Regions from separate parts of the Homo sapiens genome. Here regions 2, 3 and 4 are each reported to be linked to region 1. Evidence: microRNA targets listed by miRTarBase, many of them from high-throughput screens and not tested one by one. Region 1 holds a microRNA gene; each other region holds the end of a gene's coding sequence.
The links. The annotated mature microRNA hsa-miR-5004-5p reads UGAGGACAGGGCAAAUUCACGA and lies in region 1 at 2,679-2,700, opposite strand. An mRNA with a match to its seed (bases 2 to 7 or 8) in the 3' UTR can be bound and repressed. Matches are read on the target gene's strand: a 7mer-m8 pairs with bases 2 to 8, a 7mer-A1 pairs with bases 2 to 7 and ends in A, and an 8mer does both.

Region 2: miRTarBase lists RAI1 as a target of hsa-miR-5004-5p. Seed matches in the 3' UTR shown: 8mer at 5,818-5,825.
Region 3: miRTarBase lists ANXA11 as a target of hsa-miR-5004-5p. Seed matches in the 3' UTR shown: 7mer-m8 at 1,918-1,924 and 8mer at 5,863-5,870.
Region 4: the mRNA of ELP2 is a reported target of hsa-miR-5004-5p. Seed matches in the 3' UTR shown: 8mer at 2,314-2,321.

What each region holds. Positions count from the first base shown.
Region 1 is chr6:33,433,053-33,441,050 of GRCh38, reverse strand. It overlaps MIR5004 (microRNA 5004), which reads right to left and starts at 2,720; the gene lies at 2,614-2,720. It overlaps SYNGAP1 (synaptic Ras GTPase activating protein 1), which reads right to left. Exons shown (of 19, transcript NM_006772.3): 6 at 5,746-5,899; 7 at 5,438-5,536; 8 at 2,760-3,383; 9 at 2,488-2,632; 10 at 2,132-2,276; 11 at 86-322. It overlaps SYNGAP1-AS1 (SYNGAP1 antisense RNA 1), which reads left to right. Exons shown (of 3, transcript NR_174954.1): 3 at 3,570-3,688. RefSeq lists a silencer at 3,021-3,198.
Region 2 is chr17:17,809,562-17,816,930 of GRCh38, reverse strand. It overlaps RAI1 (retinoic acid induced 1), which reads right to left. Exons shown (of 6, transcript NM_030665.4): 6 at 5,478-6,961. The coding sequence ends at 6,950. It overlaps SREBF1 (sterol regulatory element binding transcription factor 1), which reads left to right. Exons shown (of 19, transcript NM_004176.5): 10 at 213-474; 11 at 558-724; 12 at 903-1,071; 13 at 1,602-1,710; 14 at 1,987-2,096; 15 at 2,184-2,316; 16 at 2,521-2,686; 17 at 3,162-3,362; 18 at 3,452-3,563; 19 at 4,080-5,597. The coding sequence ends at 4,309. It overlaps MIR6777 (microRNA 6777), which reads left to right and starts at 3,386; the gene lies at 3,386-3,451. It overlaps MIR33B (microRNA 33b), which reads left to right and starts at 3,000; the gene lies at 3,000-3,095. RefSeq lists an enhancer at 3,616-4,174.
Region 3 is chr10:80,149,251-80,157,335 of GRCh38, reverse strand. It overlaps ANXA11 (annexin A11), which reads left to right. Exons shown (of 16, transcript NM_145868.2): 16 at 1,424-6,447. The coding sequence ends at 1,483. Among named protein-coding and RNA genes, the nearest start is that of PLAC9, 21 kb to the right of the region's middle.
Region 4 is chr18:36,174,251-36,182,139 of GRCh38, forward strand. It overlaps ELP2 (elongator acetyltransferase complex subunit 2), which reads left to right. Exons shown (of 22, transcript NM_018255.4): 22 at 235-6,307. The coding sequence ends at 391. It overlaps COSMOC (cell fate and sterol metabolism associated divergent transcript of MOCOS), which reads right to left. Exons shown (of 2, transcript NR_134605.1): 2 at 5,751-6,140. Among named protein-coding and RNA genes, the nearest start is that of COSMOC, 9.2 kb to the right of the region's middle.

The DNA.
Region 1 (7,998 bases):
CAGGAGACCCTTCTTGCCGACCCCCAGCCCTGCCACTCCCTGCCCTGCCACTCCCTGCCCTGCCCACTCCTGAAGCTTCCCTCACTTGGAAAAGTTGGCCAGGTTCTGGATGACCTTGGCAATGAGGGTGAGGGTTCGTGAGGTCTGCTCATCTGGGTACTCCTGCATAAGCCCAAAGAGACTGGGCGACATAATCGCTGGGCAGAGGAAGCGCAGGAAGAGTGAGGCGCTGATAAGCCTGTCTGCGATGTCCTCCCGGCCTCGCTCTGCGCAGCGCAGCCGCCACGAAGCAAACACCTCCTTCAGCTCCCTCGGGAACACGCTGGGGGGAAGGGTCGGGGAGACAGAGAGAGAGAGAGAGAAAGAGAGAGACCGGGACTGAGCCCCAGAGACCCTCAGCTTCCAGGGAACATGCTGAGGGGGGTGGTAGGAGGTGAGGGTGTGGAAACAGGGGTGAGAGAGACAGGGAAGGAGGGACCGCAGGAGCAAGATGGGAGGCTGCTTGAAGAAGGGGGCCATGGCAGAGGGAACAGACAGATTAGGGAGAGAGAAATGGAGGGGGAGAGAAGGTGAGGGGAGAGACACGTGGGAGAGAGATGGAGGGGTGTGGGAGAGAGACAAGGAGAGGAGGAGAAGAAAAACAGACACCAGGGAGAGACAGAGATGGGAGAGAGATGGAGGGTCACTTGAGGTACAGGGAGCTCGGACCCCCCAACTCTTCTGGATTCCAGGGAAATGGGGATGGAGGTGCCCCAGGCATGATCCCCAGTCCCTGGAATGGCTCAGAGCTCACTCCCCGCACCTCCCAGTTCCACTTCAATGTCCCACTGACACCTTAAACTCGGCTGGTGTAAAGCAGAGCTCACCATCGCCCCCACACCTCCAACTGGCTCCTCCTCCTGACTTTCCTGGTTGTCAATGAGGCCACCGGTCTCCCAACCACCAGCCTCATGGCCTCTTGAGTCATCCGTGACTCCCCACAGACATGCTCCCTCCTTTCCAATAAGCTGACAATTCCTACTGATCCTTTCCCGAGAGGGTCCTTCCAGTAGCTCCTTCCTAACTTCTGTCACTGTTCTGATTCAGGATCTGACTTTCATGCCTCCGAGCCCCCAGCTGGCTCTATTCCAGTCATCCCCCAACATACATCCCTCTACTCTACTACATACACTCTACTTATGGATTAATTTTTTTTTTTTGAGATGGAGTTTCACTCTTGTTGCCCAGGCTAGAGTGCAATCGTGTGATCTCGGCTCACTACAACCTCCACCTCCCAGATTCAAGTGATTCTCCTGCCTTAGCCTCCCGAATAGCTGGGATTACAGGCATGTGCCACCACATCTGGCTAATTTTGTATTTTTAGTAGAGACAGGGTTTCTCCATGTTGGTCAGCCTGGTCTCAAACTCCTGACCTCAGGTGGTCTGCCCGCCTCAGCCTCCCAAAGTGCTGGTATTACAGGTGTGAGCCACCGTGCCCAGCCTATGGATTAATCTTCTAAATCACAATATTTCTGACACCTTTAATGGCATCCCAAGGCCTACCAATGACCTCAGACTCCTTGAGGCCTTCCAGTTTCTAAAGCTAATCTTCCTGCCCAGACATCTCTCCCGCCACTCCCCATTATGAGGCACATGCTCCACTAAACCTGATGTAATTGCTACTAACCTACTTTAATGTCCCCTGAAAACTCCTGGGCCTTTTCACCATCACACATGTGCCTTTCTCACAGCCTTCTTCTGAAATGTCTTTCTTGCCAACTATGTCCATATATCAGAACCTAAACCAGTCTTCAAAGCCTACCCAAGGGGGCACCTCTTCCCCACTTATCTCAAAGCTCTGCCTTCTCTCTGACCTTATGTCACACAGAGGTTGGGGGGACCCTTACTCAGCACTTACACACCATTATGGCTCTGTGGCTTTTTTTTTTTTTCTTCTAATTTGTCCCCATTCTGGTGGAGGCCCTCTGAGGGCAGGGACCAGGCCTCTTTCACCTGTTTGCTCTATAGCGCCTAGAACAATGCTTTGCCCATAAATGGTGCTCAGTCCTCTTTGAGGATGGACAGATAGATGAACAGATGAACACATAATTCCCCCGACCCTGGCCCCCCAGCCCAGCGTTCCCAGTCTCACCAGTGGGAGTTGACCACCTTGCACAGGGCCAACTCACAGCACATTCGCAGGTTGGCCTGGTGCTCTGCCAAACTGGATGCTGTGCACTTGATAGGGTCTACCTCGCAGTTTTCCTCAGATTCATACAGAGCACGGATGAATTCTCCTGGGGGGTGGGGGCACAAGAGGGTGTGGTCACACTTTCCAAGGGCAGGGAAGGGGGTGGCCAGGGTTGGGGAAATTTCAGAATCAGGTGTTGGAGGCTGGAGTCCTAGGACTCTGGGTTAGGAAGTATCAAGCTGTGGAAGGGTGGACTTGGGGTCTGGGGTGGACATCTGGCAGGTTTGGGAAGAAGAGGGCCTGAGTGTGGGCCATACCAATGGCATCCTTGAGGTATTTCTGACCAATCAGTCTCATATACTCTTCTATGGCTTTAGTGGCAAGCGTGTTCTCGCGGAATATGAGGTGCTCCCGTTCCATGAACCGGTCTACCTCAGACATGGCCATGTCTGAAAGGAAGTCCTGAGGCCCAGGAAAATCCAAGTGTCAGCCTCTGCACAACCCAATCTCGTGAATTTGCCCTGTCCTCACTAACCCCCAAGCAAGTGCCCATTCCCAAGTCACCTTTCCCTGAGGGCACAACACTCACCTTGGCCTTGCCTGTACTCTGCAGGATGTGAACTAGTGCACTGGCAACCTCCTCCTTGCCTTTGACATTCAGGGCGGGCTCCAAGACTGCACACAGCATCCGATAATGGTTGGTGACATACTCTGCAAACTCTTTATATAGCTCCATGGGCAAGATGCTCATTGTCTGGTAACGTGCTTTCAGCCGCACAGCCGGGCAACCTCCTTTGCCCTTGCCCCCTGAGCCACCCCCCGAGCCCCCTCCCCCTCCCGAACCCATGCCCCCAGATCCCCCACTGCCTGTTGGCAGGGTTACAGGGTACCACTGCTCTGTGAAGTGGCGCCCAGCCAGGGTGGCCACTGGCACAGTCACCAGGCCGACATAGCCTGCCTTGTCCTTCTTGCGCTTTTTGTCTGAGTCACGGTACAGATGCAGCCGCAGGGCACGGACAGCCGGCAGGTTGTTAAACTCGAAGTGCTCGCCCCAGAAGACGGTGTCCCCAGAGGCAGAGCGGGGCTTGGAGGTGGTGCGTGCATACAGCATGTCATCCAGGCAGAGCTCACAGTAGTACCGCTTCTTGGGGGGCAGCTCCCGGGCCTCTATGATCCACAGCTTTAGCACATTGTCTACCCGGCGGCTGTTGTCCTGGCATGGTGGGGTGGGCATGATGTTAAAGGGGGAAGGGACAGAGAGACACCAAAAGAGGAGAGACAGTAAGAAAGTGGGATACAGACAGCAATCATAAGGTGAGACGGTGTACTGGGTTGAATAGTATCCCACCAAAACTCATGTCTACCCTGAACCTGTGAATGTGATCTTATTTGGAAACAGGATCCCTGCAAATGTAATCAAACTAAGAAGAGGCCAGCCATGGTATCTCATTCCTGTAATCCCAGCACTTTGGGAGGCCGAGGTGGGTGGATTGCCTGAGGTCAGGAGTTCGAGCCAGCCTGGCCAACATAGTGAAACCCCGTCTCTAATAAAAATACAAAAACAAATTAGCTGGGCATAGTGGCACGTGCCTGTAATCCCAGCTACTCAGGAGGCTGAGGCAGGAGAATCACTTGAACCTGGAAGGCGGAGGTTGCAGTGAGCTGAGCTCATGCCATTGCACTCCAAGCCTGGGAAACAAGAGCGATATTCCATCTCAAAAAAAAGAGGCCATACTGAATTAGAGTGGACCCTTAACCCACCTTATAAAAACTGGTGTCTTTATATGGAGAGGGAGATTTGGAGACACAGAGATACAGGATACAGAGACACACAGAAGGAAGCCAGCTACATGAAGATGGAGGCAGAAATTAGACGGATGCAGTTATAAGCCCAGGAATGCCAAGGACTGCTGGCAACCTCCGGAAGCTAGGAAGAGGCAAGGAAGGATTCCCTGCTACAGCATCAAAGAGAGCGTGGCCCTGCTGATACCTTGCTTTTGGACTTCCAGCCTCCTGAACTGTGAGAGAATAAATTTCTGTTGTTTTACGTGACCCAGTTTGTAGCAGTTTGTTATAGCAGCCCCAGGAAGCTACTGTAGAAGCGTAGACATACACTAGACAACACAAACAGTATTGGAAAGATTTCAAAAGCTGGAATAACAAGCCAAAAATATTAATGTAGAATTTGAAGGGAACTGGAAAGTCCTGCAGAGACTATCAGAAATTGTGAAAAAAGAATTGCATATAGAATGGGTAAAGCTTGGCCAGATGTGGTGGCTCATGCCTGTAATCCTAGCACTTTGGGAGGCTGAGGCAGGCAGACAACCTGAGGTCAGGAGTTTGAGACTAGCCTGGCCAACATGGTGAAACCTCGTCTCTACTAAAAATACAAAAATTAGTCGGGTGTGGTGGTGCATGCCTGTAATCCCAGCTACTGGGGAGGCTGAGGCACAGGAATTGCTTAAACCCAGGAGGCGGAGGTTGCAGTGAGCCAAGATCACGCCACTGCACTCCAGCCTGGGTGACAGAGTGAGACTCTGTCTCAAAAAAAAAAAAAAAAGAATCAGTAAGGGCCTGGGGGGATACAATTGAGCACAAGCTAATGGTAAGGCTCAGGTGATATTGCAGTGTGTTGAAAGGGAACATGGTGTTTGTACTCTGCATAGGTCAGATCATGTCAGCATCTTGGGTTGAGTTCTTTAAGGACATCAAGACACAAGAGTTCCCCCCAGAGGAGTGTGACTAGGACTGTAAGCTTGCTAGAAACTGGGATACAGAGAATAGCTGACAGAACTGGAAGCATGAAGTTTTGGGAAGAACAGACTCATAGAATTTATGTGCCAAAGGGACCTTAGAGATCATTTAATCCAACCCATTGCCACCAGTTCCCTCTGTCTTAGAGAGGAAACCAAGGTACAGAAACTTGGCTAAGTGTATTTGATGTGTCCTGCGGGGTATTAGTGAAGCATTCCTGCCTGCAGGGAAGCTAGACTAAAGAATTTCCAGAGCCCCATCAACTCTGTAAGTCTATGACTTCTATGGCAGGGAAAGAGATCGTAAGGCAGGGTAGCAGTACAGAAAGCGAAAAGAAATGGGGGACTCAGAATAATGGGGGTCTCCCCCTGCTTGTCCAGATACACTGTACCTCAATCCTCTCCTTCCCCAAGCCTCTCCTCCTTTAACTCACTTTCCTCCCTAGGCCCCCAGCTTCCCGTGTTGGTGCAACCTTTGCCCTGCACAGGTTGTGTCCCCTTTATTCCCCAATACCTTGTTGGGCTTTACTGCCCGCTGCAGATTCTCAATCCATTTGTCTCTTTCGGCCGCAGACCGACAGGCAAAGCATTTTGTTCCTGATGAAGTTGTTACCTAGAAAGGAGTGTGGAGTTGAGGGAAAGGGCTACAGAGGGGAGGAGACTCTGCTACCTTCTCTTCCTCCCTGGCCTACCCTTTCCTCCAGTCCCAGAAGTTTCTGTTTCCTTGATGTCCCCACCTGTGCCACTTTCTCTAGACCTCTCTGCCCCCCACCTTCCATCACCCCTGTCCTTTGGCCCTCCCCAGCCCACCAGACCCAGTACCTCAAAACAGAACTCCTGGCCCAGGATGGAGCTGTGCACTGGCTTGATAATGGAATCTTCATCCAAGTTGAGCTCCAATGCCTCAGCTGCACTGCTAGGACTCAGCAAGGACTCATGAGAGTGTGACTCCTTAAAGCTTTGCATCAGCCGGGCCCTGGCAGGCAGGAGGTTCAGGAGAGGAAGGGATCAGGGCTTCCCACTCTTCCTTTTTTTTTTTTTTTTTTTTTTTTGAGACAGTCTTGCTCTGTCGCCCAGGCTGGAGTACAGTGGTGTGATCTCGGCTTGCTGCAACTTCTGCCTCCTGGGCTCAAGCGTCTCTCCTGCCTCAGCACACCCAGCTAATTTTTTTTTCTTTTTTTTTTTTGTATTTTTAGCTGAGACGGGGTTTCACCCTGTTGGTCAGGCTGGTCTCAAACTCCTGACCTCAAGTGATTCAGCCTCCCAAAGTGCTGGGATTACAGGCATGAGCCACCGCGCCCGGCCCCCCTACTCTTCTTAGACACATAGGTACCCTGCATCATCAGTCTGTTCCAGGATGGAGACTTGGAGAGAAGGCCCCCTGAACACCCTTCCCAAACAGACACAGAAAGAAACCCTGCCTATCAGGAAGGACGTGAGGGATGTGAGAAAAATCAGAATCCTTTAAGGAACTCCCCTGCTCCACCTGGGCCTGGTGGCTCACACCTGTAATCCCAACATTTCAAAGGCCGAGGTGGGAGGGTCACTTGAGCCCAGGAGTTCAAGACCAGTCTGGGCAACACAGTGAGACCCTATTTCTATTTAAAAAAAAAAAAAGGAAAAAAAAGAAACTCCCACCATCTCACACCTAAGGGATTGCGAGGACTGGGGACATCTAGAAATATCTCAACCCAGAAATGGACCATGGCAGAAAAGAAAAAAAAAAAAGGAGAGAACAAAGTGGGCCTGGGGCACTTCTAGGTAGTACCTCCAGGTAACCCCAGAAACCAGAGCCTCAGTATAAAGGAAAAAGTGGAAGTAAAGAAGTGAAGGCACAGAGAAGAGATATGTCTAGCCTGGGCCTGGCACACGGCTAGTGCCTGATAAACATTTAATGATTCAAAGAATGAATGAACACAGCATAAGAGGACAAGTTTTAGCAGAAGCAGGGGAAAGAGTGAGGGAAAAGCATAAGAAATAGGAGAAAGCTGTGGGCAGAAAAGAGCTCAAAGAGGATAAAAGACAGAATACACGGACTAGGGAAGAAGAGGAGGTAGGGCAAGAAGAAGAAAGGGGGAGACAAAGGTATGTGCAGCAAGACAGAGGACAGGAGAAGAGGAGGAAGGCCAACTGGAGAGATGGCCGGGAGAACCGAGGTGAGGGCTAAGAGGGGATGGAATGCAAAAAAATCACTGCAGGAGGGCAGAAGATAAAGGGGGCTAGGGGCATGGAATAATGAGGGGTAGGATAGCAATACAAAAGCGGTATGGAGATGGGCAGGGGATGAAGAGTAGAGAGCAGTGGGAAAGCGGGAGGGGAGCTTGGGTGTGGGAGCCTCCAAGAAGTTATTTATAGCAGCCCCGTCATCGCAGGCTCTGGCTGCCGTCAGCGCGACGCTCCCCCGGCCCCCGGACCCCCCCCCCCGCCCCCGCGGCCAGGAATACCATGCCCTCACCCCCTGCCGGCCCCAAATCCAGCTCTGGCAACATGGGAGGGGGGCAGGGAAAGGTGTGACTCACTTTATCCCAACCTCCCTACCTGCCCAATCCTGGGGGTGGCCAGACATGGGGGAAAGGGAGGGCATGGTTCTCCCTGGGGAGTGACTGGGTGAGGGGGAAACCCAGAGAGGAACCCCAAATGGCAGGCAACAAAGGCAAACAGTGGAGGTCTCCTTCAGCCTGGTCTCAGGGACAGTGCCTTCTGGACTTCTCCGCTGGCTGCTTCTTCATGCCTCAGTCCATGGGTTGCTTCCCATTCTGTCACCCTGCACACCTGTCCCAGCCTCCCCTTCTCTGCCATGCTCTATACTGTCTCTTCCCTCACTGATGAGGTCCTTGAGCCCTAGCCATCATCCATTCATTCAGCCACCCCCAGCCCCACTCCAACCTGCTGCCCCTGTATTTCCTGACCTTCCCTGACACCCTTCCACCTACAGCCTATTGCTCACTCACCTACCAACCCCTTCCCTGCATTCCTTAAACATTCCTCCAGGGTCACTCTCCTCCTGTACAGCTCCTTTGATCCTGGGCTAGAGCCCATCCTTCTTGGCCTGAGGAGTCCCTGAGGAGTCCCTCC
Region 2 (7,369 bases), not on the chromosome of region 1:
CAGGGCAGGGACCCCAGGCTGTGAAGGTGCTGGGTGTCAACCCTTGTTCCTGCTCCCTGTGCACACCATGAATCTGTCCCGTCCTCCCTGTGCCTAGCCACGCATCCGCAGACCCCCACCACCCCTCCAGAGCCTGCTGTGGACGGCTCTTCTGAGCTTTGGGGCAGCTGCTCTGACCTCACTTTTCTCACCTGGAAAACCCTCATCCACAGGGAGACTTTGCCCAGGCTGCCCAGCAGCTGTGGCTGGCCCTGCGGGCACTGGGCCGGCCCCTGCCCACCTCCCACCTGGACCTGGCTTGTAGCCTCCTCTGGAACCTCATCCGTCACCTGCTGCAGCGTCTCTGGGTGGGCCGCTGGCTGGCAGGCCGGGCAGGGGGCCTGCAGCAGGACTGTGCTCTGCGAGTGGATGCTAGCGCCAGCGCCCGAGACGCAGCCCTGGTCTACCATAAGCTGCACCAGCTGCACACCATGGGTAGGACTGAGCGTGGGGCGGGCTCCGAGGTGCTCCCTGCTGCCTGTGCTCCACCCACAGCCTCATGCCTGCTTGCCTTCCAGGGAAGCACACAGGCGGGCACCTCACTGCCACCAACCTGGCGCTGAGTGCCCTGAACCTGGCAGAGTGTGCAGGGGATGCCGTGTCTGTGGCGACGCTGGCCGAGATCTATGTGGCGGCTGCATTGAGAGTGAAGACCAGTCTCCCACGGGCCTTGCATTTTCTGACAGTGAGTGGGTTGGGGGGCTGGGGGCTTATCCCTGCAGCTCTCTCCAGAGGCTCCCTGGGTAAGAGCTACACGGGATGTGGCAGTGGTTACCAGGGGGACTCCAGGCCAAGCTGGGACTCGGCCCGGGGTCTGGCCCCAGGCTGTGTCCACTGTGACAGCCCAGTACCCTCCCCTACAGCGCTTCTTCCTGAGCAGTGCCCGCCAGGCCTGCCTGGCACAGAGTGGCTCAGTGCCTCCTGCCATGCAGTGGCTCTGCCACCCCGTGGGCCACCGTTTCTTCGTGGATGGGGACTGGTCCGTGCTCAGTACCCCATGGGAGAGCCTGTACAGCTTGGCCGGGAACCCAGGTGCTCTCTTACCCCTTCCCTGTCCCCTCTCCTGTCCCTCATCCTCATTCCTGTCCTGTCCCTTGTCGCCTGAATCTCTGGCTGTCTCTGGCCACCCCAGTCCTTCTCCCTGCCATGGGTTGTTGCTGTGGGGGTTGCAGGAAGGGAAAGGCCTGGGTGCCTCTCGTTCCCATTGGGGCTTTCAGAAGCACATGCAGGGATTGATGGGCAGATGGCTAATTGGAGAAGTGACCCCAGGCAGTGCCGCTGTGGAGTAAGGAAGCGGAGCCAACAATGGCATCTTCTCAAGTCGGTTTTCCTTTGGAAGCAGTGTAGGGCAGGCCTCAGTGTTGTCTCCTGGCCAAGGCTGGTGCTGGTGATAGTTATGTCCACCCGCTTTCCCCTGTCCTTGGCAGGGGCTGCACCCAGGGGCATGCCGGCACTTCCCAGTGGCCCTAGGTGTGGCCCCAGCCCACCCAGGAAAAAGCCCTTAGCTTGGAGAGGAGGGTGGGGCCCTGCTCCCCACCCCACTCACCTCCTCCTCTCCACAGTGGACCCCCTGGCCCAGGTGACTCAGCTATTCCGGGAACATCTCTTAGAGCGAGCACTGAACTGTGTGACCCAGCCCAACCCCAGCCCTGGGTCAGCTGATGGGGACAAGTAAGTGTCGTTGTGCCCTCCTCCAGGCAAGGCCCCTCCGGCGGGATTCTGAGAATAGCTCTGGCCTCAACCCTGTGGAGAGAGCCCAGAGCTGGGCTACCGTGCGTGCCATGCACGCTTCATTCCTCTCTGAGTTTCCTCTCCCCACCAGCCTGTGGGAGGAGACAGTGGCACTTTGCAGAGCCAGGGGCCAGGCTGTACTCTGGAGGGCAGGTGGGGAGCACCCTCCTAGGACCCCTGCCATCTGTTCCGACAGCCAGCTCTCTCCTTCCACAGGGAATTCTCGGATGCCCTCGGGTACCTGCAGCTGCTGAACAGCTGTTCTGATGCTGCGGGGGCTCCTGCCTACAGCTTCTCCATCAGTTCCAGCATGGCCACCACCACCGGTGAGTCCCCGGCCCCTGTCCTGGCTCCCTTCTCAGCTCCCCCGTGCAGCGTGACTGAGGGTTCAGGGGACCCTCCCTCTTCTGCAGGCGTAGACCCGGTGGCCAAGTGGTGGGCCTCTCTGACAGCTGTGGTGATCCACTGGCTGCGGCGGGATGAGGAGGCGGCTGAGCGGCTGTGCCCGCTGGTGGAGCACCTGCCCCGGGTGCTGCAGGAGTCTGAGTGAGTGCACGGCAGGTTCCTCCTGCCTGGTCCCGGGCTCAGCCTTCCTCATCCCCTGGGCACTGTGCCTCACTCAGCCTTTGTTCTGTGCAGGAGGAGTCACCACCTTTTTTCCTCAGGGAACTCGAGCCAGGGAAGTGGGGGGCACTCAGCCAGGGCTTGTGGACTGGTCTGACTGGCACTCTTCTGCCCTGGTCCCAACAGGAGACCCCTGCCCAGGGCAGCTCTGCACTCCTTCAAGGCTGCCCGGGCCCTGCTGGGCTGTGCCAAGGCAGAGTCTGGTCCAGCCAGCCTGACCATCTGTGAGAAGGCCAGTGGGTACCTGCAGGACAGCCTGGCTACCACACCAGCCAGCAGCTCCATTGACAAGGTGAGGGGTGGGGTCAGGGGCCTGGCAGGGCTGGGGGATTCAGCTTTCCATTCCCTGGTTCCTCTCCCCAGCCCCCAGGGGCTGCAGAAGACCATGGGGTTAGCCCAAGCAGCACAGGATAGGGGGTCCAGCAGACCCTGCTTTTTGGCTAAGGCTTCTGTCCAGAGGAGAGGGGTTGCCCCTATCTGGCCTCAGTTTCCCCATCCCTGGGAGGAGGGGGGTGGATGGTGTGGTAGGATCCCTTTGGAGGCCCTGCATCAGGAGGGCTGGACAGCTGCTCCCGGGCCGGTGGCGGGTGTGGGGGCCGAGAGAGGCGGGCGGCCCCGCGGTGCATTGCTGTTGCATTGCACGTGTGTGAGGCGGGTGCAGTGCCTCGGCAGTGCAGCCCGGAGCCGGCCCCTGGCACCACGGGCCCCCATCCTGCCCCTCCCAGAGCTGGAGCCCTGGTGACCCCTGCCCTGCCTGCCACCCCCAGGCCGTGCAGCTGTTCCTGTGTGACCTGCTTCTTGTGGTGCGCACCAGCCTGTGGCGGCAGCAGCAGCCCCCGGCCCCGGCCCCAGCAGCCCAGGGCACCAGCAGCAGGCCCCAGGCTTCCGCCCTTGAGCTGCGTGGCTTCCAACGGGACCTGAGCAGCCTGAGGCGGCTGGCACAGAGCTTCCGGCCCGCCATGCGGAGGGTGAGTGCCCGATGGCCCTGTCCTCAAGACGGGGAGTCAGGCAGTGGTGGAGATGGAGAGCCCTGAGCCTCCACTCTCCTGGCCCCCAGGTGTTCCTACATGAGGCCACGGCCCGGCTGATGGCGGGGGCCAGCCCCACACGGACACACCAGCTCCTCGACCGCAGTCTGAGGCGGCGGGCAGGCCCCGGTGGCAAAGGAGGTGAGGGGGCAGCTGCTGACCAGGGATGTGCTGTCTGCTCAGCAGGGAAGGGCGCACATGGGATGTGATACCAAGGGAGGCTGTGTGTGTGTCAGACGGGACAGACAGGCCTGGCGCAGTGGCTCACACCTAGCACTTTGGGAGGCTCAGTTGGGAGGACAGCTTGAGCCCAGGAGTTGGAGGCCGCAGTGAGCCTGAGTGACAGGGAGAGTCCCTGTCTCAAAAAAAAAAAAAGACCAAGCATCTTCTTGATGGTTACCTGATGACAATTCCTTTCACAAGGAATCAGTGGGGTGACTGTCATTTGTGGGATACATGACTGCACGTGCGTGACTCAGTCTGTGGACTTTGTGTGTGGGCTGAGACTAGGGTGGGGAGAGGGGAACCCGCCAGGCCCCCGCCAGGTACCTGTGTGCCAGGTACAGGCGGCTGGTGCCGTGGCTTGTGTGTGGGCAGGGCTCCCGCGGGGGCGTGGCCAGCTTGAGACCCATCCCTGACACATCCTCGTGTGCGCAGGCGCGGTGGCGGAGCTGGAGCCGCGGCCCACGCGGCGGGAGCACGCGGAGGCCTTGCTGCTGGCCTCCTGCTACCTGCCCCCCGGCTTCCTGTCGGCGCCCGGGCAGCGCGTGGGCATGCTGGCTGAGGCGGCGCGCACACTCGAGAAGCTTGGCGATCGCCGGCTGCTGCACGACTGTCAGCAGATGCTCATGCGCCTGGGCGGTGGGACCACTGTCACTTCCAGCTAGACCCCGTGTCCCCGGCCTCAGCACCCCTGTCTCTAGCCACTTTGGTCCCGTGCAGCTTCTGTCCTGCGTCGAAGCTTTGAAGGCCGAAGGCAGTGCAAGAGACTCTGGCCTCCACAGTTCGACCTGCGGCTGCTGTGTGCCTTCGCGGTGGAAGGCCCGAGGGGCGCGATCTTGACCCTAAGACCGGCGGCCATGATGGTGCTGACCTCTGGTGGCCGATCGGGGCACTGCAGGGGCCGAGCCATTTTGGGGGGCCCCCCTCCTTGCTCTGCAGGCACCTTAGTGGCTTTTTTCCTCCTGTGTACAGGGAAGAGAGGGGTACATTTCCCTGTGCTGACGGAAGCCAACTTGGCTTTCCCGGACTGCAAGCAGGGCTCTGCCCCAGAGGCCTCTCTCTCCGTCGTGGGAGAGAGACGTGTACATAGTGTAGGTCAGCGTGCTTAGCCTCCTGACCTGAGGCTCCTGTGCTACTTTGCCTTTTGCAAACTTTATTTTCATAGATTGAGAAGTTTTGTACAGAGAATTAAAAATGAAATTATTTATAATCTGGGTTTTGTGTCTTCAGCTGATGGATGTGCTGACTAGTGAGAGTGCTTGGGCCCTCCCCCAGCACCTAGGGAAAGGCTTCCCCTCCCCCTCCGGCCACAAGGTACACAACTTTTAACTTAGCTCTTCCCGATGTTTGTTTGTTAGTGGGAGGAGTGGGGAGGGCTGGCTGTATGGCCTCCAGCCTACCTGTTCCCCCTGCTCCCAGGGCACATGGTTGGGCTGTGTCAACCCTTAGGGCCTCCATGGGGTCAGTTGTCCCTTCTCACCTCCCAGCTCTGTCCCCATCAGGTCCCTGGGTGGCACGGGAGGATGGACTGACTTCCAGGACCTGTTGTGTGACAGGAGCTACAGCTTGGGTCTCCCTGCAAGAAGTCTGGCACGTCTCACCTCCCCCATCCCGGCCCCTGGTCATCTCACAGCAAAGAAGCCTCCTCCCTCCCGACCTGCCGCCACACTGGAGAGGGGGCACAGGGGCGGGGGAGGTTTCCTGTTCTGTGAAAGGCCGACTCCCTGACTCCATTCATGCCCCCCCCCCCAGCCCCTCCCTTCATTCCCATTCCCCAACCTAAAGCCTGGCCCGGCTCCCAGCTGAATCTGGTCGGAATCCACGGGCTGCAGATTTTCCAAAACAATCGTTGTATCTTTATTGACTTTTTTTTTTTTTTTTTTCTGAATGCAATGACTGTTTTTTACTCTTAAGGAAAATAAACATCTTTTAGAAACAGCTCGATACACACAATCTTCAGTGTGAAGCAATATACTAATAAGAACACTAGTCGTCTTAACATTTACAGTCTTCATATATATTATATATATGTATATGTATACATATATATACACTATATAACGAGGCCAGATATAATACACACGTTTACCATTTTACAGTCATATGTACAGGAAGTTGCTAGGGCGGCCCTGGGCTGGGGGCTGCGTCAGGCCTATCGAAGCGTGGACAGAGCTGAGGACACGGACGGACAGGCGGACGGACTGGCAGGGACTGGCCCGGGCCGGTGGTGGCTGCGTGGACAAGTGGCGTCGCGGTAGCCCCTTACCCGGCAAAGGCCCGGTTGGGGCTCTGTTGCGGGCGCACGACGCACGGCGGCGACACACGGGAGAAGCGAGCATGTTCCCAACATATATACATTCTATGTAACATATATATAGAGGGGTACACAGGTTTTGTACACGAAATCTAGCGCTGTCCCTGCTCCCGTGCAGAGTAGGCGCGGCGGTCCCTGGTGGTGCACAACGGTCGCGCGTCCGCCGGAGCCGGAGGTGCGTTCTGGCCGCTTCTTGGGTTTTGCGCTCCCAGGCTGGGCTCCAGGGGTGGGGTGGAGGACTGGAAAGGGGACAAACAGAGGCCAAAGGGTGTCCCAGTCCCGCCCACACTCGGGGATCCCGCAACCCCTAACTGAGCATAGCCCAGGTCTACCCCGGCTTTGCCCGAACCGCACGAGAGATCTGGCAAAGGCTGGGCGGGAAGGCCCCTGGACGCGTTCCGCACGGTTTGTTCCAAAGGCTCCGGCCTCTCCAGTGCCGGCCTAGCCCGCTCTCAGAAAGGCTTCCTTTCTCCCCCGCCTAGTCCACGGAGCTAGGAGCCGCCCTCCGCCTCTTCCAGTACTGTTTCGACCCCCACCCCCAAGCCCAGGGCTCCCAGCTGCACGCCACGACCGACTGGGGTGGCGGCAGCACCCACGTGGAATGTGTGCCACGTCGTCTTGAGATTCCAGAGGGAAAGTGTCCCCAGGACAAAGCCGTCTCCCACCCTCGCCGGAGGCTGAGCGCCCCGGGGAGTCTGGCCGCTCCGCGGGCTCCCCCTCCGCAAGCCTGGCCCCTGGGGTGGGCAAGAACGCCCTGTGCCGTCCGGTTCCGGGAGCAGGCGGCTCCGGAACGGGTTTTCCTCCCAACCCGGGGCCGCAAGTCTGAGCCCTAGGCGGCCGGATCCACGATCCGGGACCCGGATCAAGGATCGGCTCTGGACCAGCGCTGGGAGCAGCTCAAAGGCCCGGGGGCTGCGCAGGCGGCTCCTCTCCTTCGGCGGCGGGCGGGCAGGCGGGCTCCGGCGGCTCCTCCGGCCGTTGGGGTGGATTACTACGGCAGCCTCTGCAAAAGACGCCCGCCCGCCAGTTACCGACGACCTCGGACTTCACAGTCCATAGGCCCCGCCCCCAGTGTGGGCCCCCCGCCTAAGCCCCAGACCCAGGCGACCCCAGAGCGCGGCTGGGGTCTCCGCCCGAGGCCGTCGGCACCACCCCTTCTGGCCCCACCCCGTCCAGCTTCACCTTCACCTTCGCCTTCAGCTCCGTGCCACCGTCCCGCGCCCCCGCCTGCCCCACTCTGTCACCTATCTTGGGGAGCTGCAGGGAGGCCGTCCCAGGGACGCCCTCCAGCCCCTGGCTGCCCATGCCCCGACGCCTGCGGGTTTTCGGCGGCGGCGGCGCGCAAGTGGACAGGGACCTGAGCTGGACGGCGGCGGGGGCTCCTGGGGGTGGGCGGGGAGAGCTCCCTCCC
Region 3 (8,085 bases), not on the chromosome of region 1:
TGAGAACTCATGTCCCAAAGGCTCTGTGGAGCTCTGCTGTCACTCCCTGACAAAGCACTTCCTGCACTCAGCTTTATGGCGTAGGCCACATAGTAAGGCCGTTCAGAGCGAGGGCCCTGGGGGTCACGCCACTTGGAGTCCAGCTTTTCTACTTGCTAACTGTGTGACCTTGAATGGCTCCCTTAAATCTCCCTGAACCCCAGCTCCATTGTCTTTAAGATGAGAAAATAATCGTTCCTTCCTGGGAATGTTGTGAGTATTGAGTGAGGCAGTGCAGGTCAAGTGTCTATTAAACACTAGCCACAGTTGTATCGCTGTGTGGCAGAGCCAGTCTGACAAAATACATTCTCAGCTGTGTGGTCTAACGCTCAAATTCTGAACTCACATGAGCCTTGCAATTGCACCATGGGGACCACGTCCTCCCACCTTAGACTCAGTAGCATTTGATGATGGTGGGCATGTCATCACAGGAAACTCACTGTGTTTCCTTGGCTGTATGAATGAAGCTGTTGTTAGAGAATTAGTGATTCTAGGCTGGGCACAGTGGCTCACGCCTGTAATCCCAGCACTTTGGGAGGCTGAGGCAGGTGGATCATTTGAGGTCAGGAGTTCGAGACCAGCCTGGCCAACAAGGTAAAACCCTGTCTCTACTAAAAATACAAAATTAGCTGGGCTTGCCTGTAATCCCAGCTAATTAGGTAGGCTGCGGCAGGAGAATTGCTTGAACCCGGGAGACAGAGGTTGCAGTGAGCTGGGATCACGCCATTCCACTTCAGTCTTGGTGACAGAGTGAGACTTCGTCTCAAAAAAAAAAAGAGAGTTAATAATTCATTACAGAGTATCTCCTGCATGCCAGCAAGCTATGGACATCTGGAAGAAGCCACATGCCTTGCCCTCAAGTTGCTTAGGGTGGAAGGAAATGATTAGAAATGAGCCAAGCCGAGCCTGCACTCTTAGAGTAAGTGTAGTGGCCTCAGACAGAGGAGAGATCCCTGGGACCTGGGCAGTCTGAGCCTTCCACTGGACAGTCATGTGTGAGGAGATTGCATTTCCTGAGCAGGACACTGTGTTGCGTTACATTGGTAACCCCAATTTAAGGCAGCATAAATGCACTGGGAAAACAGCAATATTGGTTAGCCCTGGGAAGTGGTTTTTAGGATGATTATAATTTTTTTTTGTGGGTATTCATTTGATGTGGATAGCTGGGGTGAGTGCTGCTTTCCGTCTTCTGATGGGGGCCTGGAGAAGGCTGAACTGCATTTTTTAAGGTCTGTGACGCCTGCTGCAGGACCTGCAGTGGGAGAAAATTCCCCAGGGTGGGGCTTTCTCCCTATAAGGGTGCTCAGGGCTGAATATCAGGACCCAGAAGGCTGAAAGTGACTGTCCCTCCCTTAACGGATGTCTTCCTTGTTTCTGTGGCCAGGGAGATACTTCAGGGGATTACCGGAAGATTCTGCTGAAGATCTGTGGTGGCAATGACTGAACAGTGACTGGTGGCTCACTTCTGCCCACCTGCCGGCAACACCAGTGCCAGGAAAAGGCCAAAAGAATGTCTGTTTCTAACAAATCCACAAATAGCCCCGAGATTCACCGTCCTAGAGCTTAGGCCTGTCTTCCACCCCTCCTGACCCGTATAGTGTGCCACAGGACCTGGGTCGGTCTAGAACTCTCTCAGGATGCCTTTTCTACCCCATCCCTCACAGCCTCTTGCTGCTAAAATAGATGTTTCATTTTTCTGACTCATGCAATCATTCCCCTTTGCCTGTGGCTAAGACTTGGCTTCATTTCGTCATGTAATTGTATATTTTTATTTGGAGGCATATTTTCTTTTCTTACAGTCATTGCCAGACAGAGGCATACAAGTCTGTTTGCTGCATACACATTTCTGGTGAGGGCGACTGGGTGGGTGAAGCACCGTGTCCTCGCTGAGGAGAGAAAGGGAGGCGTGCCTGAGAAGGTAGCCTGTGCATCTGGTGAGTGTGTCACGAGCTTTGTTACTGCCAAACTCACTCCTTTTTAGAAAAAACAAAAAAAAAGGGCCAGAAAGTCATTCCTTCCATCTTCCTTGCAGAAACCACGAGAACAAAGCCAGTTCCCTGTCAGTGACAGGGCTTCTTGTAATTTGTGGTATGTGCCTTAAACCTGAATGTCTGTAGCCAAAACTTGTTTCCACATTAAGAGTCAGCCAGCTCTGGAATGGTCTGGAAATGTCTTCCTGGTACCAACTTGTTTTCTTCTGCTTGATTCTGCCCTGTGGCTCAGAGGTCTGGCCTTATCAGCCAGTGAAAGTTCATGTAACCTTACGTAGAGATTTGTGTGCAGGAAACCCTGAGCATACACTAGTTTGCAGGGACTCGTAAGGACATGGGAAGGGAGGTTCCCGAAATCCAGGCAGGAGGCCCAGACACCTGAAAGGCAAAGGGATCTTGGTTGGTTGCAGGTGCAGTGAAGTCCACTGAAGGTGTGGTGCGAAGAATGCAGTCCTTCACCCAGGTCCCAGGAGGGAAGAAGGGTGTGTGCTAATTCCTGGTGCCCCTCGGCGGGGGCCAGAGAGAAGGATGGGGACAACCCAGAGAGTCACAAGACCAGTGCCTCCCCTCAGGGTGCCTCCAGGCTGAAAGGGGCTCCTGGCTCTGGTCTCTGGGGACCCTGTGCCCGTTGGTTGGTGGTGTGAGGGAAGAGAATCCATAAGAGAGTTTCTGAGAATTATGGTGTCATGTCCAGAAGCTAGAGCTTACCTTGCATCAGGGGTCTCCACCCACTCCTTTTCCAACCTCCTGCGTTGAGGTTTAGAAAAGAGAGAATCGACTAGGCACTATGGCTCACGCCTGTAATCCAAGGACTTTGGGAAGCTGAGGTGAGAGGATCACTTGAGCTCAGGAGTTCAAGACTAGCCTAGCCAACAGCGAGACCCCTGTCTCTACTAAAAAATTTGGCCAGGCGTGGTGGCTCACGGCTGTAATCCCAGCACTTTGGGAGGTGAGGCGGGCAGATCACCTGAGGTCAGGAGTTCGAGACCCAGCCTGGCCAACATGGTGAAACCCCATCTCTACTAAAAATACAAAAATTAGCCAGGCATGGTGGCACATTCCTGTAATCCCAGCTACACAGGATGCTGAGGCAGGAGAATCACTTGAACCCAGGAGGCAGAGGTTGTAGTGAGCTGAGATCACACCATTGCACTTCAACCTGGGTGGACAGAGTGAGACTCTGTCTCAAAAAAAAAAAAAAATTTACCTGGCATTGTAGTGCATTCCCTATAGTCGGCTACTCTGGAGGCTGAGGCAGGAAGATCCTTAGAGCCCAAGAAATTGAGGCCGTAGTAAGCTGTGATTACACCACTGCACTCCAGCCTGGACAACAGAGCGAGACCTTGTCTCAAATGAGAAAAAAACAAAAAGAAATGGGAGAATCCAGAGAGACTAGGCTAGATCAAGCCTGCTGGGTCCTGGCAGGAGCCCCAGGGAGTAGCTCATCTGCAGACATTTGCTTGAGGACTACCCCCTAAACATAAAGGAAGAATGACATCCGAAGGGTGTGGAGCAGCCATGAGCTGAGAACTAGCCTGGTCTACCTGAGATTGATGGCAGGTCCTGGTCAACACGTCAGCTCTGCGTCAGAGTCCATGCCTCAAGCCCAAGCTGAAGCCCCATCCCTGCTGCTCTCCCAAGAACTCCTCTGCTAGGGCAGGCCCCTTGCCCTTGGGTGCCAGGTGGGACCTGCCTGATGGGATGGGGTGCTTGGCATATACAACTTGCCATGAACTCAAGGTGACCCTGGGGGCCTCCTGAATTGTGATGGGGCCTAGAACCAATGTGCTCTGATGTGACCATATTCTGTGACATTACCTTGCCCTGTTTACTCCAAAGTTCCCAGCCTGGTGCCCAGCAGGCAATATTGCACCTACAGACACATTTACTTTGGTTTCCAAAGTGTTTTTAGACATTTGAATTTGTTGCCAACATTTAAACATTGAGAGATTTCATATTTTTAAAAATCTGGAATTCTGGCTTCTCTTGAAAACTCAGAAATTCTGGCACTATGGGGCTTGCATTCCTGCATGGCTGGAGCTGAGTTGCAGCTGCCCCTTTAGGCCTGTACTCCTTATTTGCTATAGGCTCCGTCTTGTATTACACTAAGCCCATGTCACCCATTTGGCTCCTGCAGGCCTTTGGGTTTGAGACCCTGGTCTACACACTTGGAGACCACCTGTTGTAAAGTACATGGATGTGCTTTGGTCAAGGAATAGACCAAGGTGGATATCCAGGCCAGAGTGACTCAGCGAGTTTAGGTCACAGGCGTATACTCCACTTGTTATATAACCTGCTTGTGTAAGTTCATACTTGGCTCAAAGCCACTATTGTTTGGAAAAGGTATAACTGCCCTGCTGACGCTGTACAGATGTTCTTGGGCTCGGATGGGCATGGCTCCACGTGGTGTGCACTAGCACCCAGAGAGAGTGAAGCTATTGACCCCTGTAAGGGAGAGTGACCATCTGGCAGATAGATAGAGGGGAGCCAGGACATGGCTCAGCTTGTGCCCAGAGGGAGAGTTAAGCCGCTGACCCTGTAGCCAGGGAGTGCACCTGCAAGCATGGGGGTGGCAGGAGCCACAGAGCTGGCTGCTGAGAGGAGCTGCAGATCTGGAGAAGACAGCCTAGGTAAAGGTGGACAGTGTGAGAGCTGCTGATGAGATAGCTGCTGAATAAAACTACATTTTACCTGCCTATGGCCCGCCAGGTTTTCTTTCAGCTATCGCCCATCCACCCAGTCCCCTCGAACCTCAGCATGGGCTGGAACCTGACCCTGGGCATGACATTTGGCATAGTTGTGGACCTGACACCTGTGTTTGTCCTAGTCCTGTTTCTCCCTGCCTTCCTGTTCCTCTCGCTGCCCTCATGGTCACTCCCAAGAGATCCAACCCATGTTAAGTATGGGCTGGAGGACTGCATGAATGCCTCATGATCTTCCCAGAGGCAAAGGCACCTACTGCCTTCCAAGGTCAGTGGGAGGTTGGGATCAACACTGTTTATTATGCTTAGGACAAAAAAGATAGGGAGAAAGATGTGCAACCTTACAGGTCATCTTTCTGGGATAGAACACAATGGGTCTTCTCCTGCCTCCTGGATATGTTAGTCAAGGCCAGTCCATGCTACACATCTAGTCTGACTTCTAAAATAGAAGCACCAGATGAATTCAGCCCTGAGAGAATTTTCAGCAGCTGTGGGGGCGCTGGAGGAAACACTATTAAATAGTTTTGCACCTGAGACAGATAGCCTCACTCGCCTCACCCTAGTCCTGGTGGCATTTGTCTCAGGTGCAAAATTTAAGAAAGAAACCTTGGAGTGCTCACCCTGTGGCTGGGTAGATGGTCCTAAAGTGGTGGTTTTCAAGCCTGAGTGTGTATCAGGATCATCAGGGGAGCTTGCTAAAGAGCAGTTCCTGCGGTCAGACCCTCATGCATTTTGAGCAGGTGTGGGGACTGGGAAACTGCATCTGTAACCTGCTGTAATCTAACGCTTATCTAAATACTACTGTGCTCACACAGAGAACACCGCAAAAGTAGAGGTGTTCCTCCAGAGGGCAGGTGAGCAGATGGCACAGTCTGCTTGGAATTCAGTCAGGTGATGAGAGATGAGATGAGGCACTCCTAGCTTTGGGAAGAGGGAGCTGAAAGATGAACCTTTGCAGGTGCCCACGGTCAAAGTGGTGGTTTAATGCCATGCCATGCCCATTTTCTGTTGGCCTTGGCAGGGAGTTACAGCCCTACCTTAGGACCTGGCTCCTTATTTCTGCTGTAGGCTCTTTCCTGCCCTGGCCGAGATGGAGTGGAATGAGACCTAGAAACATCAAGCTAAATACATGTCCTCAGAAAGATAAAGGTTTACATTTTCACCCCCATCAAATCTGAAAGCTCTCTGCCTGTGTTTTTCTAAGGGATAGGGACATCATTACTCAGTCCACAACCTGGACTCATGTAGGGTCCCCTGTCAGTAAAGGAGTCAGTCAAGCCCACCAGGTATACCAAGGACTCTTACCCTCAGCCCCTACTCCTTGGAAAGCTGCCCCTTGGCCTAATATTGGTGTTTAGCTTGAGCCTGACTCCTTCTCAACACTAAGAGCTGATGAAGTCCTGAAGCAGAAAGAGCTCTGACCTGAGAGTCAAACATCCTTATTCTGATCTCAGCTCAGCCCCTGATTTGTTGTGTGACCCTGGATATGTCACTTCCTGTCTTTTTGACTTTTTAAAATGAAGGGTAGACTAGAGGAGAGCTTCTAAAACTTTAATGTGGTCAACGAAATGGAATAGGAAATTCCACAAGTCTGTCCTTCCACAAAAGCAGCAAATAAGGTGGCAAAAACTCAAATTTATGGGAACTCTGGAAACGAATTGAAAGTTTACAGCAATCAGGTGAATACCTAAGAATAAAAGCTGGATTTAGTAAGAGAGCTTTGTTGTGTTTTAGCTTACCCTGGCCCCATCCCCCACTCCCCAGCATGGCAGCAGCATCAAAAACAATATCCCTCATTCCCTGTATAGGTTCCTGTCACTGGAGGTAGCAGATTAGACCTTATTTTCAAGAAGTATGTTGATTTTGATTTGATTTGTTGCTCCCTGAAGGACTGGTTCAAATGCCTTTCTTTTATTTTGCCTAATTTGGAGCTCTCCTAAAGTGAAGATGGCAGCCTGGAAAGACGTTTCAAGGTCAGTGTATTAGTGGCTCATGCCTAGGGGAAGGAATAACATTTGGAGCAAACAGGAGACAAATTGAAAAGCTTCAGGAGGAAAGGCTAGGAAATAAGATTCTTTGGGTGAGAATAAGGACTTTAAAGAGATTCCACATATTCCTGGGAATCTGAAAGACCATACACATGCCTAGGGCTGGGCATGTGCTTAAAAAGACTTGAGAGGGCCCTATGCTGTCACCTCTGCCTGACCTTCAGGCTCCGTGCAAGCAGGAAGTGAAGGCTAAGGCATAGTTATAAACTGCATGGGTGAAGGTTGAAAGGTGTGTCCCAACACAGAACACATCTGCAAATGCTACGAGGCATTTTGTTGTTCCAAGTGTTCAAAGAAATCTTTTGAATCACTAGCTGACCACTAAGCTAACCAAAGACTTAGTGGCCACACCTGACAAAGAATACAAACTAAAAAACTAAAAATGTAGTTCAAGAAAATAACAGGCTGGGCACAGTGGCTCACATCGGTAATCCCAGCACTTTGGGAGGCTGAGGCAGGTGGATCACTTGAACCCAGGACTTTGAGACCAGCCTGGGCAACATGGCAAAACCCCATCTCTGCAAAAAATACTAAAAATTTGCAGGGCCTGGTGGCACACACTTATAGTCCCAGCTGCCCAGGAGGCTGAGGTGGGAGGATCACCTGACCCTGGGAGGTCCAGGCTGTAGTGAGCCATAATCCTGCCATTGCACTCCAGCCTAGGTGACACAGTGGAGGAATAATTTTATTTCCAAACTTGCCACATTATAAATAATATTCAGAATGTTCAGTTTTCAACAAAAACTATGAGGTATGCGAAGAAACAAAGTATGGCTCATACATAGAAAAAAAATCTGTTAATAGAAACTGAGGAAAGCTCAGACATTGGACTTAACAGACAAGACTTTAAGTCAATTATTTTCAGAAAGGTCAAAGAACTAAAGGAAACCAGGAGAATGATGTCTCACCAATATTGGTAAAGAGACTGGAATTATAAAAAGGAACCAAATAGAAGTTCTGGAATTGAGAAGTACACAAATAAAAAATTCATTGGAAGGGTTCCAGAGCAGACTTAAAAAGGAAGAAGACAAAAATCAGCAAACTTCAAGATAGGTCAATTGAGATTACCCATTCTGAGGTGCAGAAAGAAAACAACAACAACAAAAAAGCTAACTGAGCCTAAGACACCTGCAGGACACCATCAAGTGTACCAACATACACCTAATAAGAATCAAGAGAAGAGTGAATGTAGAAGAAATTTTTAAAGAAACAATGGCTGAAAACATAATGAAAGACATTAATCTACACATACAAAAAGCTCAATGAATTGTAAGTAGGGTCAACTCAAAGAGACACTCAGTGTGA
Region 4 (7,889 bases), not on the chromosome of region 1:
ATTGTCTGTGTCTTGCTCATTTTGGTGATGTTATTGCCAGTGAGTAAGATTAAAATTTAGTCTTGCAGTTTTAAGTAAATATAGTAAAATATTTTCCAGGTTAAAATAAAATGGCTAAAATGTTAATGATGCGATTTTAAAACCTGTACATTTCAATTTTCAGGTTTTAACTTCCATTCATGTTTACACCATTAATTGGAAAAACATTTCATGATTTCTCTATCTTTGTTTTAGCCAAAGTCATACACTGGCTATCAGAAAATTATGCTGGAAGAATTGCAGTGGAAAAACTGAACAGAAGGAAGCAGAAGGTGCTGAGTGGTTACACTTTGCAAGCTGTGGTGAAGATCACACTGTGAAGATACACAGAGTCAATAAATGTGCACTGTAATGGACTTAATAACTACATGCTTGCAGTCACTGGTATCTTAAAATATTATCATGTAAACAGGTCATCTTTACCTTCATAACTGAATTGAGTTTCTGGGTTTTTTTTTTTTTTGAGATGGAGTCTTGCTTTGTCACAACCTCCACCTCCCAGGTTCAAGCGATTCTCTTTCTTCAGCCTCCTGAGTAGCTGGGACTAGAGGCACACCACCAATTCCGGCTAATTTTTGTATTTTTAGTAGAGACTGGGTTTCACCGTTGGCCAGGCGGGTCTCAAACTCCTCGTCTCAGGTGATCTGCTTGCCTCGGCCTCCCAAAGTGCTGGGATTACAGGCGTGAGCCACTGCGCCCAGCCTGAGTTTCATTTTTTAAGTCACATAGCAGTAGTCCTTATTTCAGTGCTAGACCCTTTGAAATGCGATGAAAGCTATATGGACCCTTCGCTTTGTTATATAACATATGCACACATACCCAGAATTTTGCACATATGTTCAGAGATTCCTAGACCTGCAGACCTGCCTCTGTGTGTCCCAATTTAAGAACCTCTGTTCTTTCTTCATGACTGGATTTGCCCAATTTTGTGTTATTTTGGGACTTAATTTGTCCCTCTTTGGGACATTTCCTTATTTATTGCCCTCTTCAGAGAGTAGATGTAGAAAATAAAGAGAGGAAACCTAGATTACTTAATTTTATTTTAACATTTTCTATAGATAGCATACCACGCCAAGTGTGCTCTGTCTTGATCCCCTTCTTTCTAGCATCTGCCAGACATTGTAGAGTTTCGCAAGCAGTTGTAGGTTTGAGCTGCAGCCAGTCATTTCTTTTATTCTTTAAAAGTACATAGATTTGTCTTTTTAGGGCTTTACTGAAAGTAAAATATCCTGACATTTAAACTGACAGATGTAGGAGGTAAAAAATAGAGTTCTGAAACATTTGAATTTATGTGACAGCTGAAGTCACGAGATGAGGGATATATGTCCCCCAGGGAGGATGCAGAAAGAAGAAAAGGGTACTGGAAACAGCATGTCAGTGGTGCCAGCTGAGGGCTGGAGGCAGCCAGGAGAGTTGGGAGCCTGGGTGCTGGGTGGAGAGAGGTTAACAGGGAAGACATGGGAAGTATTGTGAAGGCTGGTGTGAGCAGGGGACTACTCCAGCCCTGTTGGAACATAGAGCCATTTGGCAGATTGACAATGCAGTGACAGCTGTATATAATAAATGTGTTGAAAGGAGGAAGGTGAGGATTTTCTTGGTGGGAGTTTATGCTGTTATTTAACATATTTTGCTTCCAAAGGGGTTAAGATGTTTTACCTAAATGGAGGTTTCTAGGTCAGTGCTATACAATATTTCTAATCTGTGTTTTATAGTGTGAGCTACATATGTAATTTTAAAATTTTCAAGTAGCCACATAATAAAGGAAACAGGTGAAATTTAATGACATATTTCCTTTAATACGGTATATCCAAAATATTATTATGTCAACCTATAATCAGTATAAAAACCTGTTACTGAAATATTTTATAGGGCCCATCTCAGTTCAGACTAGCCACATTTAAGTGCTTCATAGCCACATGTGGCTCATGGCCATCCATATTTGGACAATGTACTTTAGACTATTGCATCTGTATACTCTTGTGCCGTCAGCTGGGGGGTGGGGTGTGTGTGCGTGTATACCAAGGCAGTGAGCATCTGAGCTTTGAACCTCAAAGACCAAAATGCCCTGCCCATTTTCCTGCTTATCAGCTGAGGAATCTTTACCCACATTGACACATGGGCTTGTTCTGACCCAAGTGCATGCAGGCTTCCAGAGCAGATTCAGAGGCCTAACTTAGTCCTTTAGCTTTCCTCCCAGCACAGAACTCCCAAGGTTATCTGCAAGTAGGCCTTGCCTAGAGAGACTGAGTTTTCAAGTTGTCAGTTTTCCCAAATTGTCCTCAAGCATCTTCCTCTGGAATCACCTTACTGTTTAGTAAACATTCAGAGGACTTGCTACACATCTGGGCAGTCTGCATTGTAATTCATATGTGTTTACACATTTGTGTCTTCATCTGCTAAAGCACCTTTGAACCATATTGTAATTCATAATATCTGAAGCAATTATTATGAATTGTAGTAATTCATAATATTGAAGCGATTCATAATATCTGAAGCAATCCCCAGATACGGGTTAGGCATGGCCCTGCTCTGAGCAGGATGGCAAAAGTGGCAGTCCGTGACGCAGCCCTTGTTACCCCAGGCTATTACTAAATGGTGGTGGTGGTTTTATCTTAATTAAAATGACATCACCAACAATGGGCCCTTTCCTGTCTGCCAGGAAAAGTTTTCTGTAGTGACGCACGTGTTGTGTGTGTATGTGTGCGTTTGAGGCTATATTACTCATTGCTACGGCAGTTCAAAATGACTTGGAAAAAAACAATGAACGCTGGTCATTGATATGTATACTGACATGTTTGAGGGAAGTTACTGTGGTCTGTAACTTATGAAATACATAAAAAATATGATGGGTGGAGTGACGGACACATGGACAGATATGAAGCAAGCACTGTAAAATATTAGTGGTAGTTTTTGTATGCCCATACTCACGGCACCATTATTCACAGTAGCTAAGAGATGGAAGCAATATGTGCCCATCAGTGGGTGAATGATCAACAAAATGTGGTATATTCATACAGTGGAATATTATTCAGCCTCTAAAAGGAAGATACGCTGACATGTGCTGCAACATGGATGAATCTTGAGGACATGATGCTAAGTGAAGTAAGCCAGTCACTGGAAGACAAATACTCTATGCTTCCATTTATGTGAAGTATCTAGAGCAGTCAAATGCATAGAAACAAGTAGAATGGTAGTTGCCAAGGACTGGGGGAGGAGGAAATGAGGAGTTGTTTAATGGGTATAGTGTTTCAGTTTTGCAAGATAAAAAGTCCTGTGGATTGGTTGCACAGTTAAGTTATGTGAATGCTGTATGCCAACTCAACTGTACACTCTAAAATGGTTAAGATGGTAAATCTTATCTTTATTTTACCACAGTTTTTTTTAAAGCATGGTAAACACCATTTCCCAGGATGTAAATCGGTACTAAAAAAAAAGTGCTCCAAAGTAAGATATATTTGGGAAACACAGGGATAACTAAGGTTAGATAGGTGTTCTTTATTGCAGGAATTCTAAGAGCATTTAACAAATTAATTTACACTGGGAATTTTCAGTGTGGAGGGTCTGGCTCATAGCATTTCACAAACATTATACTTCAGAGTCCCAAAGCCTTTAAATAAAATGTTAATGGTAGAAACTCCTTAAGGGGTGTTCACTGTACAATTCTTTCAACTTTTCTGCATGCTGGGAGTTTTTTTGGTAACAACGTGTTGGGGAAAATGGCCTTGGAATATTTCATTCAAATTGGAGCCAAGCTAACACAAAGCTGTTGCTGCTAGTGGGAACAGCCCTGATGTCCATGTAACAAGCTGCCCTCCCCAACTCCCTCCTTCCTGTTTCTCCCTCCTCGGCACCCACTTCTAGGATTAACAGGCAGGGAGACGGGAGAGCCCAGCTCTGGGTACAGTTGGGCCACAGCAGAAGGAGGGCCAGGGTAGAGGTTTGGGCCTTGGCTCTGATGCTTGAACATAAACACACCTAGTCAGAAGTACATCAGTACAAAGTGGGCCCTACAAAATTATAGGGTCAGAAAACAGGTAAGTGGTTACCAGGGGCTGGGAATGGGGAGAGGAGTGACTACAGAGGGACCTAGATTCTTCAACAAATACATTACAAGAGGAAAAGGGAAGGGAAGGGAAGCCTGGAGATTGAAAGATACTTGAGACGTGTGAATCCAGTGCAATGTATGAACCTTGTTTGCCTCTTGATCTGAACTAGCCAATCAATCTTGTAAAAATGTGCTTAAGGGACAAAGCAAATTTGAACTCTGGCTGGATATTTGATGATATTAAGGAAACAACATTTAAACATATGACAGTGGGGCTATGGTTATGATTGGTTTTGTTTTTTTTTTCTCTAGAGACTGGGTTTTGCAGTGTTACCTAAGCTGGTCTTGAACTCCTGGGCTCAAGCAGTTCTCCCACCTCAGCCTTGGTTTAAGAAAAAAAAAAAAAAAGTTCTCTTGAATCATAATTTCAGTATTTATGGATGAAATCAATTTATGTCTTGGGTTGTTTCATAATGATTGTGTGTGTGTCAAGGACTAGATGGGTTTTAGATGTGTGGATTATTAATGAAGCTGGGCAGTGTTGGGGTGGTCATACTATTCTAATTTTTTAATATACTTAAAATTTCCTTATAAGAATTGTTTAGAAAGAATGAGCATATCCATAAGTTAAATACAAAAATTGTTACATTGTGAGGAGTTCTTCCCCTTCTAGCATGTAGTGGATGGTCCAGTATTAAGGCTCTGCCATGCTTAAACAAGAGACTGGCACTCCAAGGACAATGAGGCTGAGGCCAGAAGAGAGACAGCGTGTTGGATGGCTGCATGTGGTTGGTGGATAGAGGACTCTGAGCCCCACTCTGGTGGACTCAGAGATCTGGGACCCGGGCCGGGCGTGGTGGCTCATGCCTGTAATCCCAGCAATTTGGGAGGCTGAGGCGGGTGGATCACTTGAGGTCAGGAGTTCGAGACCAGCCTGGCCAACATGGTGAAACCCCATCTCTACTAAAAATACAAAAAAAAAAAAAAAATTAGTCGGGCATGGTGGTGGGCGCCTGTAATCCCAGATGTTCCAGAGGCTGAGGCAGGAGAACCGCTTGAACCCAGGAGGAGGAGGAGGTTGCAGTGGGCCGAGATCGAGCCACTGCACTCCAGCCTGGGCAACAGAGTGAGACTCCATCTCAAAAAAAAAAAAAAAAAAAAAAAAAATCTGGGACCCAGTACTGAGTGAAGACACCAGAGTGAAGGAGAGAGGCCATGCTGTGTCCGAGAAGCTCCTACTGGGGTGGAAGGGACAGCTCCACAAAGGCTGCTCTTGCAGGGGCTCTCCTGCAGCAAGGTGCCTGCTGACTGTCCCCAGACTGTCTCCCGACACAGAGGGATGCAAAGGCAGCCTCTTCCTGCTCAGTGGAATAGGGAAATTATATCACCTTTCACTTCCCACTCTCACTTCTGCCCCTGCTACCCTTAGTCTTTGGCTTTTGCTGACATTTTCCCCTCTTATCTTTTCTCCTGACCAAGTTCTAGGTATTTCATAGGGCAGTCTAGGTGAGGGTTGGAACCCCAATGAGTTGGGCAACAGAAACCCAGCTCACACTGGCTGTCACTGTGGGCAAGCTGTTCCCCTCATCTCTAAAAGTGGAGATGAGATTAGTGTATGAGTCTGGCTTCCATTCAACTGTGTGTGAAAAAAAATTGTAAAATTTTCTTTCTGGTTTACGCAAGTTAAAAGTTTATTTCTCTCATATGAAAGGAGTCAAGGCAGACAGACCAGGATGGGGAGGGAGATGTCTACAGGGTCAAGGACCCAGGCTCTTATTTCGCTGTCTGACGTCCTTAGTATGAGGCTTTCACCTTCCAGGATGGCTGCTTGGCCTCCTGCCATGGTCTTTGCGTTCCAGCCAGCAAAGAGGAAGAAGGCATGAAGAAAGGCCTGCCCCTGACTTTAAAAACATTTCTTGGAAGTCCCATACTATTTTGCTTAATCTCCTCGGGCAGAATTTAGTGTTGTGGCCATACCGAGCTTCAGGAGAAGCTGGGAAATTAAATCTTTATTGCAGATGCCCATGTGCTCAGCAGAGAACTGGGGTGCTTCATTCTGGAAGAAAGGGAGAACAACAGTAACCAGTGTGTAGGATTGTTCTGAGAATTAAATGAGCCAATATATGAAAAACACTAGTTTGGTCCCTGGGATATAAATAAGACAGCAGTAATTTGTATCTGGTACTATTATGATTAAATAAAGCTCTGCTCGTGTCAACTCCATAGAGCCTTTGGTAAACCCCTCAAGTATTCTTTTTTGTTTTTCCTCTGAATTCCGGAGTATTTTATTCCAGTTTTGTTTTATGGCACTTGTCACCTTATATCTTCTATTTTTGTGTATGTTTTATGCTGTGTCAGGTAGATGCCTTCTATTGTAAGGAAGTTCATCTCAAACACAAAGGAATTACTGGCTCATATGACTGAGAAAAATTCAGTGGTGGGATAGGCTTCAGGTGCAGTTTGATATGGGCTCTGCCTTCCTTTCTCTAGTTTGCTTAGCTCTGCCCTTTCCATGGCAGCCTTCTTCTTTTGTTATTATTTGAGACTGAGTTTCACTCTTGTTGCCCAGGCTGGAGTGCAGTGGCGTGATCTCGGCTCACTGCAACCTCCAACTCCTGGGTTCAAGTGATTCTCCTGCCTCAGCCCCCTGAATAGCTGGGATTACAGGCACATGCCAACACTCCTGGCTAATTTTTGTATTTTTAGTAGAGACGGGGTTTCACCATGTTGGCCAGGCTAGTCCTGAACTCCTGACCTCAGGTGATCCACCCACCTCAGCTTCCCAAAGTGCTGGGATTACAGGCATGAGCCACTGGGCCTGGCCCGTTATTATTTTTAATAGAGGCAGGGCCTTACTATGTTGCCCAAGCTGGTCTCAAACTCCTGGGCTCAAGCCATCCTCCTGTCTTGGCCTCCCGAAGTGCTGGGATTACAGGCATGAGCCACTGGGCCTGGCCCGTTATTATTTTTAATAGAGACAGGGCCTTACTATGTTGCCCAAGCTGGTCTCAAACTCCTGGGCTCAAGCCATCCTCCTGTCTTGGCCTCCCGAAGTGCTGGGATTATAGGGGTGGGCCACCATGCCTGGCCACATGGCAGCTTTCCCCTGAGGCCGTTCTCCCTCATTGCCGTAAGAGGAATGCAAACAGCCCCTACATTACTTTTTTCCTTGTTAGTATCAAAGGAAATAACTCTTAGCATTAAGTCTCTAACTTTACTCTGACTGGACCATTCCTCAGCTAATCACAGTGGGCAGGGGAAAGCCGCATGTTAAGTGGCTTGGGCCTGCCCATCTGATGTAACAAGCTGTGAGATCACCTGTGCTGGCCTAGAGGCAGAGTAGGTCCCAGTGAGATCACATAGCTGCTCTAACGTGGGGTGGTTCTCCAAAGCAAAATCAGAGGGGCCAATGGATACAGGATGGGCAACCAATGCAAGCCCCCTATACGAACCTGCTAAAGCCTAAACACCTGCGCATCAGATGGTTTTCCTGTTGTCCACAGCATCCCTGAATTCAGCAAATATGTATTGCCACATATTTGCTGAATTCAGGGATGAATGAGTTTGATAATGCTGATGGCTGGTGGAGGAAGTATTCTCAAATGTAATCTGCCAGTCGGTAAATAGAATATCTGAGATTCCTGTCTTGGTGGTTAAAGGGGTAGGGGGCAAAGAGTAGGAGGGAGGTGCTAGCACAGAAGGGACCAAGAAGGGGCTGGCCTGGCCCAGTGGACCTGCTCATGAATGAACATGGGAGAAGCCGAGCCCCCAGGAAGACAGCGCCAGGAAGATTGCTGCTCTGGGC